Regions from separate parts of the Homo sapiens genome. Here regions 2 and 3 are each reported to be linked to region 1. Evidence: microRNA targets listed by miRTarBase, many of them from high-throughput screens and not tested one by one. Region 1 holds a microRNA gene; each other region holds the end of a gene's coding sequence.

Evidence for each region. Region 1 holds the annotated microRNA hsa-miR-320e (AAAGCUGGGUUGAGAAGG, at 1,063-1,080, shown strand). A microRNA usually pairs through its seed, bases 2 to 8, with sites in the 3' UTR of a target mRNA and lowers its output. Matches are read on the target gene's strand: a 7mer-m8 pairs with bases 2 to 8, a 7mer-A1 pairs with bases 2 to 7 and ends in A, and an 8mer does both.
Region 2: miRTarBase lists ZNF70 as a target of hsa-miR-320e. The part of its 3' UTR that is shown has no 7-base or 8-base seed match.
Region 3: the mRNA of ARSB is a reported target of hsa-miR-320e. Seed matches in the 3' UTR shown: 7mer-m8 at 996-1,002.

Annotation. Positions count from the first base shown.
Region 1 is chr19:46,707,027-46,710,373 of GRCh38, reverse strand. MIR320E (microRNA 320e) reads left to right here and starts at 1,020; the gene lies at 1,020-1,092. All of the region lies in intron 3 of PRKD2 (protein kinase D2), which reads left to right. RefSeq lists an enhancer at 1-525.
Region 2 is chr22:23,740,718-23,744,064 of GRCh38, reverse strand. ZNF70 (zinc finger protein 70) reads left to right here. Exons shown (of 2, transcript NM_021916.4): 2 at 1-3,347. The coding sequence ends at 265. Among named protein-coding and RNA genes, the nearest start is that of ZNF70, 8.7 kb to the left of the region's middle.
Region 3 is chr5:78,777,794-78,780,793 of GRCh38, forward strand. It overlaps ARSB (arylsulfatase B), which reads right to left. Exons shown (of 8, transcript NM_000046.5): 8 at 1-2,869. The coding sequence ends at 2,604. Among named protein-coding and RNA genes, the nearest start is that of LHFPL2, 130 kb to the left of the region's middle.

The sequences.
Region 1 (3,347 bases):
TGTACAAAAAATAATTAGCCAAGCATGGTGACAGACACTTGTGGTCCCAGCCACTTGGGAGGCTGAGGCGGGAGGATCACTTGAGCCTGGGAGCTCGACACTGTAGTGAGCCCTGATTGCACCACTGCACACCAGCCTGGGTGACAGAGCGAGACCCTGGCTCAAAAACAGGAAAAAGGCCGGACACGGTGGCTCATGCCTGTAATCCCAGCACTTTGGGAGGCCGAGGCGGGTGGATCACGAGGTCAGGAGATTGAGACCCTCCTGGCTAACATGGTGAAACCCCGTCTCTACTAAAAATACAAAAAATTAGCCGGACGTGGTGGCACACGCCTGTAGTCCCAGCTACTTGGGAGGCTGAGGCAGGAGAATTGCTTGGACCTGAGAGGAGGAGGTTGCAGTGAGCCGAGATTGTGCCACTGCACTCCAGCCTGGTGATAGAGTGAGACTCCTTCTGAAAACAGAAACAAAAACAAAACAATAAAAAGAAAAAGAAAAAAAAATCCATCCTATCAGGAAGGGCAAGTGGGAACTCAGGCACAAGCTGAAGCTGATGTCCACAGGTGGAATTTCTTCATCCGAAAAGTCTCTGATCTGCTTTTTAAAACATTCAGCTGATTGAATGAGACCCACCTAGAACAAGCAGGATCACCTCTCCCACTTACAGTCAGCTGATTATGGATTTTCATCACATCCAGAAAATACCTCCACTGGGCCGGGTGCGGTGGCTCACGCCTGTAATCCCAGCACTCTGGGAGGCCGAGGCAGGTGAATCACCTGAGGTCAGGAGTTCGAGACCAGCCTGTCCAACATGGTGAAACCCCGTCTCTACTAAAAATACAAAAAAGCCGGCGTGTTGGTGGACGCCTGTAATTCCAGCTACTCGGGAGGCTCAGTCAGGAGAATCTCTTGAACCCGGGAGGCAGAGCTTGCAGTGAGCTGAGATTGCACCATTACACTCCAGCCTGGGCAACAAGAGCAAAACTCTGTCTCAAAAAAATGAAAAGAAAAGAAAATACCTCCATGGGGCCTTCTCTTCCCAGTTCTTCCTGGAGTCGGGGAAAAGCTGGGTTGAGAAGGTGAAAAGAAAAAACAAACCTTGACTGGGCACAGTGGTTCACACCTGTAACCCCAGCACTTTGGAGGCTGAGGCAGGCGGATCATGAGGTCAAGAGATTGAGACCACCCTGGCCAACATGGTGAAACCCCATCTCTCCTAAAAATACAAAAATTAGCGGGCGTGGTGGCATGTGCCTATAGTCCCAGCTACTTGGGAGGCTGAGGTAGGAGAATCACTTGAACCCAGGAGACAGAGGTTGCAGTGAGCCGAGATCGTGCCACTGCACTCCAGCCTGGCAACAGAGCGAGACTCCGTCTCAAAAAAAAAAAAAAAAAAAAAAACCACAAACAAACCAACCTTCATGGCAACATCTAGATTAGTGTCTGAATAACTGTGGATCTCGCCTAGCCAAGCTGACACATTAACATGACTATCAGGGTCCATCTCTTGTCAACCTGGCACCTGTCTTAGTTTGTCAGGGCTGCCTTAACAAAATACCACCCTGCGTGGCTTAAATGACAGACATTTACTTCTCAAAATCCCTGGAATTGTGAGAGGCTGGAAAGACAAAGATCCAGATTCTGGCAGGGTTCTGTTTCTGGTGTAGCCTGCTTTCCTGCCTTGCAGAGGGCCATCATTTCACTGTGCGCTCACATGGGACACGGAGAGAGAGATCCCTGGTATCTCTTCCCTTTATAAGGAAGGCCAGGCATGGTGGCTCATGCCTATAATCCCAGCACTTTGGGAGGATGGTGGATCGCTTGAGTCCAGGAGTTCGAGACCAGCATGGGCAACATGGTGAAACCCCGTCTCTAAAAAATACAACAAATTGGCCAGGCATGGTGGTGCATACCTCTAGTCCTAGCTACTCAAGAGGCTGAGGTGGGAGGATCACCTGGGCCTGGGAGGTTGAGGCTGCGGTGAGCCGTGATCATGCCACTGCACTCCAGCCTAGGTGACAGAACACGATTGTCTCAGAAAAAAAAAAAAAAAAAAAAAAAAAAAGGTCACCAGTCCCATTGGATTACAGCCACACTCTTTCGGCCTCAATTAACCTTAATTACCTCCATAAAGGCACCGTCTCCAGATATAGTTGCATTGGAGGTTAGGGTTTCAACATAAGAATTTTGGGGGAGACACAGACATTTAGTCCATAACAGCACCCATACATATCTCCTTAAATCATAGTTTAAAAATATACAGGTTTTCTTTTTTGGAGACAGCGTCTCAGTCTGTCACCCAGGCTGGAGTGCAGTGGCGCGATCTCAGCTCACCACAACCTCCACTTCCCAGGCTCAAGCGATTCTCCTGCCTCAGCCTACCGAGTAGCTGGGATTACAGGCACACACCATTACTGCCCGGCTAATTTTTGTATTTCTAGTAGAGACGGGGTTTCACCACGTTGGCCAGGCTGGTCTTGAACTCCTGACCTCAAATGATCCACCCGCCTTGCCCTCCCACAGTGCTGGGATTACAGGCATGAGCCACCGCGCCTGTCCAAAACATACAGTTCTTTAAGCCAAGATGTCTCAAGGTTCAGCCCAAGTGTCAAGATCTATATAGGTCCTCTGTCCCTGTTATTCATGCTTCTGAGTGAGAATGTTGAAATCGGGGCTCTGCCTACAGATGAAGGCCATGTACCTGCATTGGCTATGAGGACAGATGACAGGTGAGGACCATCCATTCTGTGATGAGACCCTGTGGCTCCATTGTTTTGTGTGTGTGAGACAGAGTCTTGCTCCGTCACCCAGGATGGAGTGCAGTGGCGTGGTCTTGGCTCACTGCAACCTCTACCTCCTGGGTTCAAGCAATTCTCCTGCTTCAGCCTCCCAAATAGCTGGGATTACAGGTGCGCACCACCACTCCTGGCTAATTTTTGTATTTTTAGTAGACGGGGTTTCACCATGTTGGCCAGGCTGGTTTCAAGTAATCCACCCTCCTCAGCCTCCCCAAGTGCTGGGATTACAGACATGAGCCACTGCGCTGGGCCCCATGCGCCTCCATTTTTGTATGGTGTGCCCTGCAATTAGAGCCATATTCTTGGATGTTCCATTGGGTATTAGGTCTGAGACAGCATCTCTAGCTCCGTGGGTGCCACGCTTGTACAGAAATCCTGATTCTGGGCCAGGCACGGTGGCTCACACCTGTAATCCCAGCACTTTGGGAGGCCAAGGCGGGCGGATCATGAGGTCAGGAGTTAGAGACCAGCCTGGCCAACATGGTGAAACCCTGTCTCTACTAAAACTAGAAAAATTAGCTGGGTGTGGTGGCGGGTACCTATAATCCC
Region 2 (3,347 bases), not on the chromosome of region 1:
CGGTGAGAAGCCCTACGAGTGCTGTCAGTGTGGCAAGGCCTTTTGCCACAGCTCTGCGCTGATCCAGCACCAGAGAATCCACACCGGCAAGAAGCCCTACACCTGCGAGTGTGGCAAAGCCTTCCGGCACCGGTCAGCCCTCATTGAGCACTATAAAACCCACACCAGAGAGAAGCCCTACGTGTGCAATCTGTGCGGCAAGTCCTTCCGGGGGAGCTCGCACCTGATTCGCCATCAGAAGATTCATTCTGGGGAGAAGCTATAGAAAGAGGAGCCCACACAAAGCTTGAAAGCCTGTGCCAGATGGAGCCTTTATTCCACGTCGCGTGGTCTCCAAGACCCCACCTACCTCCCTGATGCTGAATGGAAACCTTCCCACCTAAGCGCTCTTGAACATCCCACTAGCAGGAAGGCCCTGTGTGGCCCTGGGCCAAGCACGCCAGCTCTCAGCAGGTTTTCTGCATGGAAGGGAAGGTGGGGTGATAGGGAGGGCAGCCAGAAAAGACAGCTGGCCTTCAGTTTCTCCTTCTTGCATTTGACTCCCAAGCCTACAGGATTTCATTTTGCCCTGTCTTCACATTTCCCAGAATCTAGAAGAATAAATGCCAAGAGGGAGAAAGTTGAATTAAACCCAGGAAAATATCAGAAGAACTCTTTAAAACAGGCTGCAGTCTGGCACTTTTAGAAGACAGAAACCACACTCACAGTCCAAAGCAGTAGAAGAAAAATGAATTCAAAAGTAGATGTGTCAGCAGCAAAGTAGAATTTTCTCACTGCGTTGGGCATTGGTGGGGACAACCAAAACAGGTCTGCAGAGCAAAGGCAGGTCTGGAGGGTGGGTCTTGAGATTGGGGATGAGGGTGGTGAGCCCCTGGGCGTGGCCTCTTAACCCTCTCCTTAGCCCTAGGGCAGTTTCCCTCAGACAGCTCTGTTACAGGAGGATAGAGATTTGATCCTGTTGGCCAGAGGATGTTTGACACCCAGCCGTGACTCAGCCTGGACACCGGACATGACTGCCCTCCAGGAATAACCCCTCCCTGAGACATAGTGTCCCCAAGACCACAGTGTGCCTTGGACATCAGCAGGGCCTGGGTCTGGTCTGTTCTGGCAATGATGCAGCCCTCCTGCCCCAGTGTCAGGGGACCTGGGAAGCTGGGTGGCTTGTTGGAGGAGGCTGTGTTCTAATCAGAAGGTCTGGGTTCAAGTCCTAGTTCCACCCCCTCCTACCTGGGTGAGCTTGAACAAGTCCTGTAACTTCCCCAGGCTCCATTCCCCCATCCAAGAGTTGGGGTAATGGGAACTGGCCACGTGCCTCTAAGGGTTGGTGCCAGGCTGTCATTCAGAACACAGCCACTGTGAAAGTGCTTTGGCAACTGTGAGCAGTCATGGTGACTGAGGACAGAGACCCAGAGTGACCCCTGCCCCACCCCTGTGCATTTCCACGGACTGGAGAGATGTTCCCGTCTGGTTTCTGAGCAGTGGGACCTCTCATTGAACAGGGCTTTCTCTCCCTCCACCCCTTGCAGCCTGGGCTGTGTATGCCTGCGGATGCAGTGTCCCACACAAGGACACTTCCTCTAGGATGCCATCCTGAGCCTCCTGTAGCAGCAGTGTCATTCTGCACTTCCACATTCTGTCTGTCTTCCCCGCCTGCCAACTAGGAGTTCACGTGGGGCTTGTTTAAACAGTACCATTGCTTGTGTCCCACCTGGACCAGTTCAGTCAGCCCCAGTGGTGGCATGTTTTAAAGCTCCCCAGGTGATTATAACTTCCTAGTGTGCAGCCAGGCTGTGGGCCCTGTGCTGGGCTTTTTTTTTTGAGATGGAGTGTTGCCCTGTTGCCAGGCTGGAATGCAGTGGCGTGATCTTGGCTTACTGCAAGCTCTGCCTCCTGGGTTCAAGCGATTCCCCTGCTTCAGCCTCCTGAGTAGCTGGGACTACAGGTGCGTGCCACCATGCCTGGCTAATTTTTTGTATTTTTAGTACAGACGGGGTTTCACCATGTTGGCCAGGATGGTCTCGATCTCTTGACCTCGTGATCTGCCCGCCTTGACCTCCCAAAGTGCCGGGATTACAGGCATGAGCCTCCACACCTGGCCCATGCTGGGTTTTTGTGCATCCCTCGACAGCTTCCAATGTCAGCCTGCTGGCTTTGGCTGAGCAGAGCTTGAAGGCCATTCTGTCTCAGTGCCCTCACTCCCTGCTCCCCGCACCCGGAGCCTCAGGGATGGGCTCAGGCTGATGGTCAGCTGGGCGCTTGGAAAGTGTTTGGCTGGGGCCTTGGGGATCTCTTTAGTCCTGGCTTCCCTTGGGCTCCTCAGAGCTAGTGGGGAAGGAGGCAGTCTAGGCTGTTTTGAAGTTTCCTAAACATTTATGGCTGGGCTAACATGAACTCATCATGGTAACACTGGGTATTTCAGCTGATCAGAAGCTCAGCATGGCCATTATGCCTAGTTTTGATGAATAAACATGGGAAAGCCATAACTGTTACTAAGTGGGTCTTGATAGGCCAGAGATTTCCAAATGACAGATATGATGGGCTGGAGAGGTCATGGTGGGAGTTCCAGCCATGCCTCTGTCCAGCCCCTGTCTTTGCTACGTATGTGAAACATTTAACATTTAACCAGCACTCCATTGTCCACCAGAACCCTCTGTGTAACCAGTTGGACTGACTGGATGGTGCCCTGGGCATTGCCTGCAAGTGGCCTGTCATTTCAGGCCTGTCTCTATCAAGAGTGAAGAGAGAATGCTAGGATGCAGTGGGGACAGCAGGCGGCATCAAGCAGGGGTCCCTGAAAGATCTACCTCCTCTTTACACCTGCCCCTCTTCCCCACCGTTATCATCTGGCAAATGTCTGTTACCTATCTTTGGTTTCTCCCTCCCCATCCTTCCTGCACACCCCAGCCAAATTGATTTTTAAAGCATCATTTTGCACAAGTCACCACTCTCCTTAAAACCAACTTTCAGGAGCTTTCCTGCACGTAAACCCTCGTTTCAGCCAACCTGGTTTACCCACTCTGAGCAAGCCGCATGGAGATCAGGCCGCCCCTGCCCACTCCAGCATCACTCCCAGCTCATAATTCTGTGCTGTTCTTGCATTTTGAAATGTGCACTTTCTCCTCCTCTCCCTCCCTCTCTCTTTCTAATTTTTGTGTAACGTGGAGATGAAGATCCCCCCTCTCTCCCAAGGGTTAACAGATAAACATGGTAAGACCAGGTTCTTTTTTGGAAGTATGACCAGAGCCTCATTCCCTCTGTTCAAATTCTTTCCTTGTTTTATTAGTTTTTTTTTTTTTTTTTTTTTTTTTGAGACAGAGTCTCACTGTCACCCAGGCTGGAGTGCAGTG
Region 3 (3,000 bases), not on the chromosome of region 1:
GTGAGCCGAGATCACACCACTGCACTCCAGCCTGGGTGACAGAGCGAGACTCCATCTCAAAAAAAAAAAAAAAAAAAATTGGAAAGAAATAACATTATTTCTAACAACAATATATCAATCTTTTCACATTCTTATATAGAATCAGAGAATCTAATGAAATACATTCTATTATGGATAAACCAAAATCTCAAGTACTTGTTTTACAAAAAATTAAGTCTTCAAAACTCTTTTGAAGTCCACTGGGTGCAGAACATCCCCCACTGTGCCTGAAAACCAAGGAACTAGAACTGGAGACAGCTGTTGGGAGGACAGCAGCGATAACAGATAGGTGCCCTGTAGCGATGGCCTCCAACGGCTACCTACACCCAGCCCTGGGATTCGGAGGATGCAGAAGGAACATCTGGGCTCAGCTATTTCATGCTGTCGGCCATACACTTCCAAGTGGGAGGTGATGGCAGTTTGGTCAGCTGTTTGCCAACCCAGGAGTTGGGTAAAGGTTGGTAAGAGATGTTATTAGTTTTAGCACCATTTCCTTCCAATAGTCTCATTTTAATACAATACAGGTTAGTAGTGACCAGAAAATATTGCTACTGAATTGAAGGATGACTATACAAGGACTTATATCAGATTATTTGTTGCTTTTAGTTTCTAGTGTCCCATAAAGTATAGAAATGGAAATTGCTGACAAGAGAGTACCTTTGGTAGGCACAGTTCCTTTTCTCCCCCCACTGGAGAGGACGCTACAACCTTGCTATAGAGTGTCCTGTGACTGCCCAGTGATGTAGATTATGCTCCTACCCCAGGAGGGGCAGCTTGAGAACAGAAAAGCAACAGCTGGAAGACATTTATATTACCTCTGTATTCAGCTCATTGGACTAGCATCTTTCATGGTGTGAGACTTTCTCATTTACTCATTTGTCCATTTATTCATTTGTTTTAAAAAATGAGGCCAGGCATGGTGACTCATGCCTGTAATCCCAGCACTTTTGGAGCCCAAGCTGGGATAATTGCTGGAGCCCAGGAGTTTAAGACCAGCTGGGCAACATAGGGAACCTTGTCTTTTCAAAAAATAAAATTAGCTGGGTGTGGCGGTATATGCCTGTAGTTCCAGCTATTTGGGTGCCTGAGGTGGGAGAATCACTTGAGCCCAGGAGTTTGAGGCTACGGTGAGTTGTGATTGTACCACTGTACTCCAACCTGGTGACAGAGTGAGATCGTCTCATAAAGATATAAAAAATTAAAAATAAAATAAAAATTAAAAAATGAGTGCCTTCAGGCAGTGTTCCAAGCATTGGTGAACACAATGGTGGGGCTAATGCAGAAAAGAGTATCATTTTTGCACACATTTCTCTGGGTTTGACACTCTCTGGAGCTAATATGGACTGTTCCACATTAGTAAGACATTAGTGGGATTGAGAAAGGGCTGCAGGTGTCAAACTGCATCCTCTTTGCCAGACCCCAGAACCTCAAAACAAGCAGTAAAACAGAGAATAAGAGGACTGTGGGTGTGCCCTCCTCTGCTTTACCAAGGCCCAGTATCCCAGACACTGGCCACTTGCTTTTTCATATCCTTTCCTGAGGTTTCTTCTCACTGCTAGTAAATAGCAGTGCAAGTCTTAATATATTATGAAATAAAGCTACAATCACAATGACTAACTCCATGCAATATAGGAAAAGCCTCGCTGAACAGATGCCACAGAGCCAAGCATCTCCCACCCAGCCCTCTTAGTGTCTACCATGAACATCCTCACAGAGCAACTCCACCGCCTATTACGGGGAGGCCTCTAGCTTCAGCCCTAGGGGCAAAAGTAAGGCAGGGCTCAGCAGCGTTCCAGAAATCAGGGGTGCTCAGGTAGAGAAGCAAAGTGGCCTTCCCAGGGATAGGACTACTGAGGTCAAAAGGAAAGGCAGGAAAAGCCACAGAAGAATTGGAAGTGGCAGGAAGTCTAGACAGAGTGAGCAATGGCTGGGGGGAAATAAATTACGATAAAAACACATTTCTTTATTTTAAAAGCCACAGTCATGGTGCAGGCATTTTGCTGTTGACCTGAACAACAAAATGGGCCTTATGCTCTGTGATGAGATAAGTGAGTAAGGGGTGAACCAAGAGGGGTGGTTCACTTGGAGTGCCTGAACATGATCCTTCACCGACAGGGAGAAGCCTTGGCCAACAGAACCATTAATCACTGTCTGCTCCCTTCATTTGCGTAAGAAATGTGATTCACTCCAATAAAACTGGCTATTGGCAGAGGGGAATCGAACGTCTGACTTGTGAGTCTAAAAGAGCCAGCTGTTCCAGCCTCCAGGATTCAGTGAGAACTTCCTATTTCAAGTTAAGTTCCCAGCTGTCCCAAGGCTTAGGAAAGGGGGATAAACCCAGCCACCCCCACCTCTAGACACATGCTCCAGCCAACAGCAGGAGTGTTGCAGATTTTATCAGCTTCTTAAATGCATTAGGGGTTGAAATTAGACACCTCGGTGTGGTTTAAGAGCAAGAGAAGGGCCAAGTGAACCCAGGTTGGGATAACAAATGAGACAAGAGTCGTGAGAAAAGGCCTGAGGTCCAACTTCCAATTGAAAGGTTTTCTAGCCTCCCTGAAATCCTACATCCAAGGGCCCCACACCCCAGTGGCCTTGGGATCACAGCGGGGGTCCTGTGCAGGGAAGTACACGGGGACTGAGTGTTTATGGTAGAACTGTAGGCGGGACAGGAGCTTTGTGACGATGTGAGGATATTCTCTGGACAGGTCATGTCTTTCTTCAGGGTCCCGATCAATATCAAAGAGCCAGAGGGTCTTGGTTGGTGGGTCTGATGAGGGTATCTCAGAAACATTGTATTGAGACGGTGGAGGGAACCAGTAACCACAGCCTAGCAAAGAAAACAAAACAGTTTACTGAGGGAGAAGCACAGAGGCAGGTTCTAATTTCAGGGAAGGAGTCTGAGGCCAAGGCTGCACTGGGTTGTGGGTGTGGAAACATAAAAAGATGCGGCCCTAGATG